2 separate regions of the Homo sapiens genome follow, and region 1 is linked to region 2. Evidence: fine-mapped expression QTL. A gene starts in region 2. The other region holds a variant in brackets. All regions are shown on one strand. Distances are between the middles of the regions. Region 1 overlaps SPAG9 (sperm associated antigen 9). Region 2 holds the start of SPAG9 (sperm associated antigen 9).

The links. PIP is the estimated chance that this variant, and not a neighbour inherited with it, causes the effect. A credible set is the group of variants that fine-mapping cannot tell apart.
Region 1: its variant is the best candidate, but not a certain one, in a credible set for the expression of SPAG9 in naive CD8 T cells (Schmiedel 2018, PIP 0.79).

Annotation. Positions count from the first base shown.
Region 1 is chr17:51,022,776-51,028,301 of GRCh38, reverse strand. All of the region lies in intron 6 of SPAG9 (sperm associated antigen 9), which reads left to right. Among named protein-coding and RNA genes, the nearest start is that of SPAG9, 95 kb to the left of the region's middle. The variant TA/A (reference allele first, on the strand shown) is at 2,832.
Region 2 is chr17:51,118,732-51,123,731 of GRCh38, reverse strand. SPAG9 (sperm associated antigen 9) reads left to right here and starts at 2,864. Exons shown (of 30, transcript NM_001130528.3): 1 at 2,864-3,378. The coding sequence starts at 3,076. RefSeq lists enhancers at 1,513-1,772, 2,382-2,611, 2,128-2,942, 3,232-3,351 and silencers at 2,752-3,131, 3,382-3,461, 3,482-3,611.

The DNA.
Region 1 (5,526 bases), 96 kb after region 2:
TGCTGTCCACTTAAACTATACTACATTTATTTAATTTTTTTCTTCAATAATAAATTAACCTTAGCTTACTGTAACTTATTTACTTTATAAACTTTAAATTTTTTTACCTTTTTGATTTTTTTGTAATAATGTTTAGCTTAAAACACAAACACATTGTATAGCTCTATGAAAATATTTTCTTTATATCCTTATTCTATAAGCTTTTATCTATTTAAAAAAAATTTTTTTTTTTTTTGCTTTTTAAACTTTTTTGTTAAAAACCAAGACACACACATATTATTAGCCTTGGCCTACACAGGGTCAGGATCATCAATGTCAGTATCTTCCACCTCCACATCTTGTCCCACTGGAAAGTTTTCAGGAGCAATGACACACATGGAGCTATCACCTCCTATGATGACAGTGCCTTCTTCTAGAGTACTTCCTGAAGGACCTACCTGAGGCTGTTTTATAGTTAACTTTATTATTATTTTTAAGTAGAAGGAGGAGTATACTTTAAAATAACAATGAAAATTTTAGTAAATACATAAACCAGTGACATAATTGTTTATCATTATCAAGTATTATGTACTGTATAGAATTGCATGTACTATACTTTTATACACCTGGCAGTGCAATAGTTTTGTTAACACACTAGGGCATTGCACTGGGATATTATGACAGTTGCAACATCACTGGGCAACAAGAATTTTTCAGCTTCATTTTAATCTTATGGGACCACCACTATATATGCTGTATGCTGTCTATTATTGACCAAAATGTCATTATGCAGATGTGGCACATGATCGTATTATCTTATGAGTGTACTGTTGACCAAAAGTAGTATATTTTAATTTTTAACAGGTCAATGATTTTTTTTTTTTTTTTGAGACAAGGTCTTGCTCTGTTGTCCAGGCTGGAGCGCAGTGGTATGATCTTGGCTCACTGCAACCTCTTCCCCCTTCTGGATTCAAGTGATTCTCGTGCCTCAGCCGCCCAGGTAGCTGGGACTACAGGCATATGCCACTACACCCAGCTAATTTTTGTATTTTTAGTAGAGATGAGTTTTCACCATGTTGGCCAGGCTGGTCTCAAACTTCTGACCTCAAGTGATCCACCTGTCTTGGCCTCCCAAAGGGCTGTGATTACACACATGAGCCACTGTGCTTAGCCTCATTCTGTCTTTAGTTGGAGGCAGTTAGTGAGGTATAATGCAAGAATATTGTGCCCCTGGCCAAATACTTTGTCCGATTTCCCATCTAAGTGCTTTTCTGCTAATCTTAGAAGCTTTATGTCACCACTGCCTGGGATACCAAGAAGAAAGACCTCTTTCAAAAATGGTTTCCCGGCCGGGCGCAGTGGCTCACATCTCTAAACCCAGCACTTTGGGAGGCTGAGGCAGGCGGATCACCTGAGGTCAGGAGTTCGAGACCAGCCTGACCAACATGGAGAAACCTCGTCTCTACTAAAAATACAAAATTAGCTGGGCATGGTGGCGCATGCCTGTAATCCCAGCTACTCGGGAGGCTGAGGCAGGAGAATCACTTGAACCTGGGAGGCAGAGGTTGCGGTGAGCCAAGATTGCGCCATTGCACTACAGCCTGGGGCAACAAGAGCGAAACTTCGTCTCAAAAAAAAAAAAAAAAAAGAAAAGAAAAAGAAAAGGGCTCAACCCCTAAAATCAGAGCTTTTCCCTTCTCAGCTCTCATGCTGTATCTCTGGGATCTAGTTGTCAGAAATATAGCCCACACATTGGGCTATTTTAAAGAGTGTAAAATATTTTTATGTGGTAAGTATAAAAGGGAAGTAAGTTACATATAAGTAAATTTCATTTTATTTGGATAGCCTAGGATAAATTTAAAACATAATTTTCTTCTAAGTAGATCTAAATTAACCACTTCCTTGTAGCCTGAAACCTTGGGATTGCTGAGGTATCATGGTCCCTTTCCTGTTTTAGGTTCAGCTCTCTCCTGGTTATTTTTTTTTTTTTTTTTTTTTTTTTCTCTTTTCACCCCATGATATCTAGACTGTCTCCTGGTTATTTTATTTCATGCTCCCAGATCCACAAATGAATTTGGAAAGTAGGCCTTTGCCACACTTCATATGTTGTGAACTTTTAAATTACTAAATACAATTTTTTCTGAGGTGAAAATAACCTGCCTTTTGTGGGGAGTGGGGGACTGGAATAATAAGGAGGAAGAAGAAATAATTTCTCTATATTTAAGAGGTAAATGAGAATTCCAAGATTGACCTCAAATTATTTATTTTTGACATAGTTTCAAAGGCATATCACTTTCTCATATAGATGAACTCAATATTCTCTAGGGCTTTCTGAATCCGCCGTCTTAATGGGTTTTAAGTGCTTTCATCAACACTGTTTATCAGAAATACAGACTGTTTATTTTATATTTTTTAATGTGTGTTACGTTTGAAACTTTTAAAGAATGAGAATTCATGTACATGATAACATGGGTGCAATCTGAGCTCACTGCAGCCTCTGCCTCCTGGGTTCAAGCGATTCTCATGCTTTAGCATTCCTCGTAGCTGGAACTACAGGCGTGCACCACCATGCTGGGCTAATTTTTGGCATTTTTAGTAGAGACAGTGTTTCACCAGGTTTCCCAGGCTGATCTCAAACTCCTGGGCTCAAGTGATATGCCCACCTCAACCTCTCAAAGTGCTGGGATTACAGGCATGAGCCGACCGTGTCCAGCCAAATACCACTTATTTTTTAATCGAGTATACATCAAAGCAAAGACAATGCAAATGGTGCTCAGAGGGACTTGTAGTTGTTTTCACTATCAATCTCTTTGGCTCCAGAGGTGTTAAATACTGTCAGTTTTTTTTTTTTT[TA/A]ATTAATACTGTCAGTCTTTTTGACTCAACTCCAAACAAATGAATTTGCTGGAATTAGTAGGTTTCTATCAGATACTTTTATATTTTATATTGGGTGCCAGTTACCAATTCAAGAAAATAGCATTTTTTTTTTTTTTTTTTTTTTTTTTTTTTGAGACAGAGTCTCACCCTGTCACCAGACTGGAGTGTGGTGGCACAATTTTGGCTCACTGCAGCCTCCGTCTCCTGGGTTCAATGATTCCTCTGCCTCAGCCTCCTGAGTACCTGGGATTACAGGCATGTGCCACCATGCCTGGCTAATTTTTGTATTTTTAGTAGAGACGGGGTTTCCCCATGTTGGCCAAGCTGGTCTGGAACTCCTGACCTCAACTAATCCACCTATCTCGGCCTTCCAAAGTGCTGGGATTACAGGCGTGAGCCACTGCACCTGGCCAATTTTTTTTTTTTTTTTGAGATGAAGTCTTGCTCTGTTGCCCAAGCTGGAGTGCAGTGGCGCAATCTTGCCTCACTGAAACCTCTGCCTCCTGGGTTCAAGCGATTCTCCTGCCTCAGCCTTTTTTATTTTATTGTGGTAAGAACATTTAATATGAGATCTACCCTCTAAAAATTTTAAGTGTACAATACATTATTATTGTTTTATGTGATGGGATCTTGCTGTGTTGCCCAGGCCATTCAAGCGATTCTTGTGCCTCAGCCTCCGAAGTAGCTGGGATTACAGGCATACATGAAGTATTGTACAATTTTTTTTTTTTTTTTGAGACAGAGTCTTGCTCTTTTTGCCCAGACTGGAGTGCAATGGTGCAATCTCAGCTTACTGCAACCTTTGCCTCCTGGGTTCAAGTGATTCTCCTGCCTCAGCCTCGCTAATAGCTGGGATTACAGACGTGTGCCGCCACGCCCGGCTGATTTAGAGACGGAGTTTCTCCATGTTGGCCAGGCTTGTCTCGAACTCTTGACCTCAGGTGATCTGCCTGCCTCGTCCTCCCAAAGTGCTGGGATTACAGGCATGAGCCACCACGCTTGGCCAAAGTATTGTACTCTTAACATGGATATGCTATTTTATTTTTATATGTTGTGTAAAATATATTGTACAATATATTATAATTAATATGTACAATATACTGTAATTAATAGTGATACAGTATTGCAACTGCCATTAAAATGATGTTGACATCAGTGTGTAATTTTATCACTAATGCTTTTCCTTTTTTGGAGAGAGTCTCGCTCTATCCCCCAGGCTGGAGTGCGGTGGTGCGATCTCAGCTCACTGCAACCTCTGCCTCCCGGGTAGCTGGAATTACAGGCACCTGCCACCATGCCTAATTTTTGTGTTTTTAGTAGATTACGGGTTTCGCCATGTTGGCCAGGCTGGTCTCAAACTCCTGACCTCAGGTGATCCGCCTGCCTGGGCCTCCCAAAATGTCGGGATTTCAGGCGTGAGCCACCGAGCCTGGCTGCTAATGCCTTTCGTATTGTATTTTCAAATTTTCTATTTAGAAAAATCGGCTGGGCGCAATGGCTCACGCCTGTAATCCCAGCACTTTGGGAGGCTGAGGCCAGCAGATCGCTTGAGGCCAGGCATCTGAGACCAGCCTGGGCAGCGTGGCAAAACTCCGTCTGTACCAAAAATACAAAAAATTAGTGGGGCATGGTGACGCACGCCGGTAATCATAGGTGCTCAGGGGACTGAGGCACGAGAATCGCTTGAGCCTGGAAGGTGGAGGTTGCATTGAGCTGAGATTATGCCACTGCACTCCAGCCTGGGTGACAAGAACGAGACTCTGTCTTAGAAAAAAAAGAAGAATTTCATGTACGCCTGGAAAAATACGATTTACTTAAATATTTCCCAATTATTTGCAGAGGAGCTAGAGAGATTATTTATTGATAATCGGTGACTCTTTATTGCCTTTTAAAAAAATTGTGACTTTCTCTGGGCAAATTTATTTCTTAACCAATTTTTAAAGTACTTTAGAATAAATTACTCAATTAAAATTTCTTTTAAATTACTTCTATTTGTAGGTTGAACTTTCTGATGTTAGCCAAGGTGGATCTAAAGCTACCACTTCAGCATCAATAGCTAAATCGATGTGGCAATAATTCCTGCTGATACTCCCTTAAGGGAATTATATATAGTATATATAATTTATAATTAAAATATTATAAATTAATAAATTATAAAAATATATAATTATGTATTATAATTATACTAATAGTTACTATTATAATAGTTATAAATTATAAAAATATATAATTATGTATTTAGAATTATACAAATAGTTACTATTATAATAATAGTTAATATTTTAAATTCTTAGTATGTGTGAAACACATTGCTAAGCCATAATGTAGAATAACTTAATAAGAATCTTAAGAAGTAGATACTGTTATCTATATTTTACAGATGATAAAACAAAGGTTTAGAAAGAATACATTACTTACCCAAGGTCATACATTTAGTGAATGATAAATTCACTTAATTTACCCTAACCCTGATTTATTATTATTATTATTATTATTATTATTATTTTGAGATGGAGTTTCACTCTTGTTGCCCAGACTGGATGCGATCTCAGCTCACTGCAACCTCTGCCTCCCGGGTTCAAGTGTTTCTCCTGCCTCAGCCTCCCGAGTAGCTGGAATTGCAGGCATGCGCCACCATGCCCGGCTAATTTTTTGTATTTTTAGTAGAGACAG
Region 2 (5,000 bases):
AGATTCAGCTATGTCATGGCATGTACTTAAAATTTTTGTTTTCTTTTCTATTCTTTTTTTTTTTTTTTGGAGACGGAGTTTTGCTCTTGTTGCCCAGGCTGGAGTGCAATGGCTCGATCTTGGCTCACCACAACCTCCGCCTCCCAGGTTCAAGCGATTCTCCTGCCTCAGCCTCCTGAGTAGCTAAGAATACAGGTGCGGGCCACCACGCCCGGCTAATTTTGTATTTTTAGTAGATACAGGGTTTCTCCATATTGGTCAGGCTGATCTTGAACATCTGACCTCTGACCTCAGGTGATCCGCCCGCCTCGACCTCCCAAAGTGCTGGGAGTACAGGTGTAAGCCACCGTGCCTGGCCAAAAAAAATTTTTTTTTTTTTTTTTGTCAGGGATGAAGGTCTCACTATGTTGCCCAGGCTGGTCTCCAACTCATGGCACAAGCCATCCTCTTGCAAGTGCTGAGATTACAGGCGCGAGCCACCACGCCTACTCCCCTCCCCTCCAACGACTTTCTTTTTATTGCCAAATAATAGTCCATTGTATACCTATGTCACATTTTATCCATTCATCAGCTGATGGTTATTTAGCTGAATTTTATTTTAACTAAATGTTATCTCTGATAACTGGCAGAAGCTTAAAATCAAGACATAAGTGTGTATCTTTCTATGTTGAACGTATACCTAAAGAAGTATACTTATTAGGAATGACAATTAAAATCTCGTACTTGAAAAATCGATACTTTTTTCTTTTTTCTTTTTTTTTTTGAGATGGAGTCTCACTCTGTCGCCCAGGCTGGAGTGCAATGGTGTGATCTCTGCTCACTGCAACCTCCGCCTCCCAGGTTCAAGCTATTCTCCTGCCTCAGCCTCTTGAGTAGCTGGGATTATAGGTGTGCACCACCATGCCCGACTAATTTTTGTACTTTTTAGTAGAAATGGGGTTTCACCATATTGTTCAGGCTGGTCTTGAACTCCTGACCTTGTGATCCACCCGCCTCGGCCTCCCAAAGTGCTGGGTTACAGGCATGAGTCACCACGCCCGGCTGATACTTTTTTCTTTAAATTTTTTGATGTGTATGATAATATTGTGGAAAGAAAAAGTAAAGCCTTGCCCTATGTTTTTTGGCTCTTCTGATCCCCCAGGAAAAGAGAGGCATGCATATAGGTAGACCAGGTGAGTGACAGCCCTCAGGAAGAGAAAATAAAAGAGGAGAGATTCAGATCAAGACTTTTTCTAGTTTTCAAATATGAAAGGTTAAGAAGAGAAAGGGCATTTGCGGCTCACAGCCAACCAGCTGGTCGGCATTCCTACTACCCAAATATCTAAATGACATAAGGGTGAATGTGGGGTGAGGGTGAGAACGGGAAAAAACACAGGCCGCAAATTCAGTCCCATCTGGCACTTCATAAGACTTAGTATTTTCATCTTTGTCCTTCCAAATTTATAGGTTTACTCTTGCCCAACCTTCATATTGTTTTTATGGGTCTCCAGGTGGGTCATGCGTAGGAAACTTTAGGGGACTACTTCATACTTGGTGGGAAGTACTTAAACTTGTAAACCCCAAGCTAAGGGTAGTTATGATCCCGGTGGGTGGCCAATTCTCCCCTTAAACCTATGTTTATCCTGCCTTTCCTCCCCCTTTTCTTAAACGAGTCGGGACGGAGAGCTGAGTCACCTGAGACACAGAGAAGGGACTTTTGAGAGTGTCTTCCGTCCCATTTGCGGACGTTAGATGAGCACACCGGGATCCTTGACTCAGCCCGCTCTAGGCGTGGGCGTTGTGTCATTCCCCACACGTGACACTCTCCCAGGCGGCAGAAACCTCACTTGTCATGGGACTTATTCACTCCAGTGACTCCACCCCTTACCTCCTCTGTTCCCCAACCTCCCACTTACCCTTTCCGCCCCACTTCAAGACTTGAGGAGAGGAGGGTGGCTGGAGCCTGGAAATGTCCCCGTCCCAAGTTGGCCAGAAGTAGCAGACACACTATGTGGGAAAGTGCCACATGTAACGTTCCAGTTTCACCCTTCTCCAGAATGCTATCACCCTTCCTGTTTATTTTTTAATAACTTGAGATATAATTCACACGCCATATGATTCACTCACTTAACGTGTAAAGTTGAATGTCTTTTAGCATATTTAGAGTTGTGTATTCATCACTATAATACATTTTTTAGAACATTTTTATTATCCCAAAACGAAATCCCATACCTATTAGCAGTCACTCCCATTTCCCCTCATCTCACCCTTGCTCTTCCATAGCACAAAACAGTTCTATTCTATTCGAGACCACCTTTCCACTTGGGCAGACCCTGGTTATGGTTTTTTTTCCCTCCCTTTCTGTTTCCAGTTTTTTTCGGAGCCCGGAATTCTCAATCTGGGTAATTGGTTTGAGTCCCGGCTCAGCCCGTTTCCCGTTGTAGCTGCGTGACCTTGAGAGCAACGCCACTTTCCTGGGCCTAGTTTCTTTGTCTGTGAAACGAGGTCCAAATATCTACCTCTTTACGCCTGTTGTGGGGATGAAGTGAGTAGGTGCTTTGTGAGCTTTAAAAAGCCATAGAAATGCCAGCTAAGTTAACTCGTCACTCTTCCCGAACCCCTCCCTTTCCCCTGGGACCCGCCCCGCGAATCCCGCTGTGGATGGATACTTCTCCCCACCCGCCGACCGCAGTCTTTCCCATTGGCGCCCGCACCGTCTTCGCGGCGCCGGGTGTTGACGCCATGGCTTCCTCCGCCAGCGCCCGAAGACGCTTGGCCCCGCCCCCGGCCGCGCCTGGCCTCCCGCGGCGCCCCGCCCATCGGGCCGACGCGGCGCCGGCCCCGCCCCGCGGATGACGTGTGGCGCGCGCGGCCGGGCCGCCCCGGCAGTTGGTGCAGCGGCGGTTGGGGTGAGAGCGCCTACGCCACCCCTCCCCTCCTCCGGCCCCGGCCCCCACCCCGCCGGGCCCAGCCCCAGCCCCGGCCCGGGCTCCAGCCCTAGTACCCGTCCCAGCCCGAGTCGGGTCCGTCCCGTGCGGGCAGGTGCCGCCCCTCTGCCGGCGACGCCCCGGGCCGCCCGCCCGTCCGCTTGCCACCATGGAGCTGGAGGACGGTGTGGTGTATCAGGAGGAGCCCGGCGGCTCCGGGGCCGTGATGTCGGAGCGGGTGTCCGGCCTGGCCGGCTCCATCTACCGCGAGTTCGAGCGGCTTATCGGGCGCTATGACGAGGAGGTGGTCAAAGAGCTGATGCCGCTGGTGGTGGCTGTGCTGGAGAACCTGGACTCGGTGTTCGCGCAGGACCAGGAGCACCAGGTGGAGCTGGAGCTGCTGCGGGACGACAACGAGCAGCTCATCACCCAGTACGAGCGGGAGAAGGCGCTGCGCAAGCACGCTGAGGAGGTGAGGCCGGCGGCAGGGCGGGGGCCGCGGGATCCGTCTCCGGGGGCGGCCGGGGCGGGGTCGCGGCCCGGTCGGGGACTAGAGGCGCGACGGGCCTCCTGGAGGGCGGGCCTGAGGCCGATGCCCCCTGGGACCGATCCCGGCGGCCTCCAGGTACCCCGGGAGCCAGGCCGGCGTTGGAAGCCGAGGCCGGCTACTGAGTGTCCTGGGAAGGGAGCGAGATGGAGGAGGCAGGGCCCGGGGAGGAAGCGGCAGCCTGGCCTGAGGACACCTGGGGTTGGCCAAGGGCGGAGATTGTTGGGTGTCTGGTTGCTTCTTGTTGAGGGAAGTTTCCGACCACCGTGGGATAGTCAGATGGCGGTTCAAAGTTTTACCCTTGGGGAGGGGGACACTTCTGCCCTGGATATGTAACTTCCGCTAGTTCCAGTACCTTTCCAGGGGGTTGCCTTGCTTTGGGAAGTTAGAGATCTCCCTCTTTCGGTCAGTTTCTTCTTGACGTTTTAATCTTGTTGAGAAAGACGTCTTATTTTATGTTCTATGTGCCTTGGTTGACACTTTGTCAACTTTTAGATGTTGTGTGGCAGTACTCAATAAATATATAAACAATTTCGTTGGTATCCCAAACCAAAGCATTCCTCCGTATCAGGTTGTAACCTTGGACAGTTCCCTTCAAAAACCCTCCGTTTATTTATAAAAAGGATTGGGGGGCGGGGTTGGGAAGATGTAGGTGACAGTTGGCAACACTTTTTCCGTCTGAGTTTCCTTCTTAGACTGCTGTTTATACGTGCATTTGGCCACCTGTTAACTCTAGCACCCGAGCAGTGACCTGGGCGCCCTCACCTCGACTCTGTGAACCTTTTGGAGTTCTAGGGTGCAAGTGATAGGTCCTTGGCTTCTTGAGACTGACAAGGAGTTTAGCTTTCAGCCTGCGTTGGCGTTATTTCTGTGGACCTTATCAAAGGCAGGTGATGTGTCCTATTTTTGTTTCTCAAGCACCTAGCACACCTGCTTAAATACATGGTGATCAAAGGAGGCGAAATAACTAATTATTGAAGGAATGACATAGTATTTTTCAAAAAGACTTGAAGAGTTTTTAGGATGTGAGGTTTGTAGCTCATTTCCTGACACTGAATAGTAACACCATTAAATTTTTGTTTTATTTTGTCACGTATACCTTTGCATCTGGTTAAATAGTTCTTTTTCCTTTTTTAAAAGCTTGACTGTAGTGATGATTTTTAGTTCTGATTGTGGGATCCAATTTTCTCAAAGGAATGCTATTGAATTTGCCAAACAAAATTGCCTTTTTTTTTTTTTTTTTTTGAGACGTAGTCTCACTCTGTCGCCCAGGGTGAAGTGCAGTGGAGTGATCTTGGCTCACTGCAACCTCTGCCTGCCGGGTTCAAGCGATTCTTGTGCCTCAGCTTCCTAAGGAGCTAGGACAACACTCCCCGCTCATTTTTGTTTTTTGTAGAGACAGGATTTCTCCATGGTGCCTAGGATGGTCTTGAACTCCTGGCCTCAAGTGATCTGCCCACTTTGGCCTCGGGCTGACCATCCCAGTGCTGGGATTACAGGCATGAGCCACCGCACCCCGCCAGAATGGACTATTTCAAGAGCTTTTC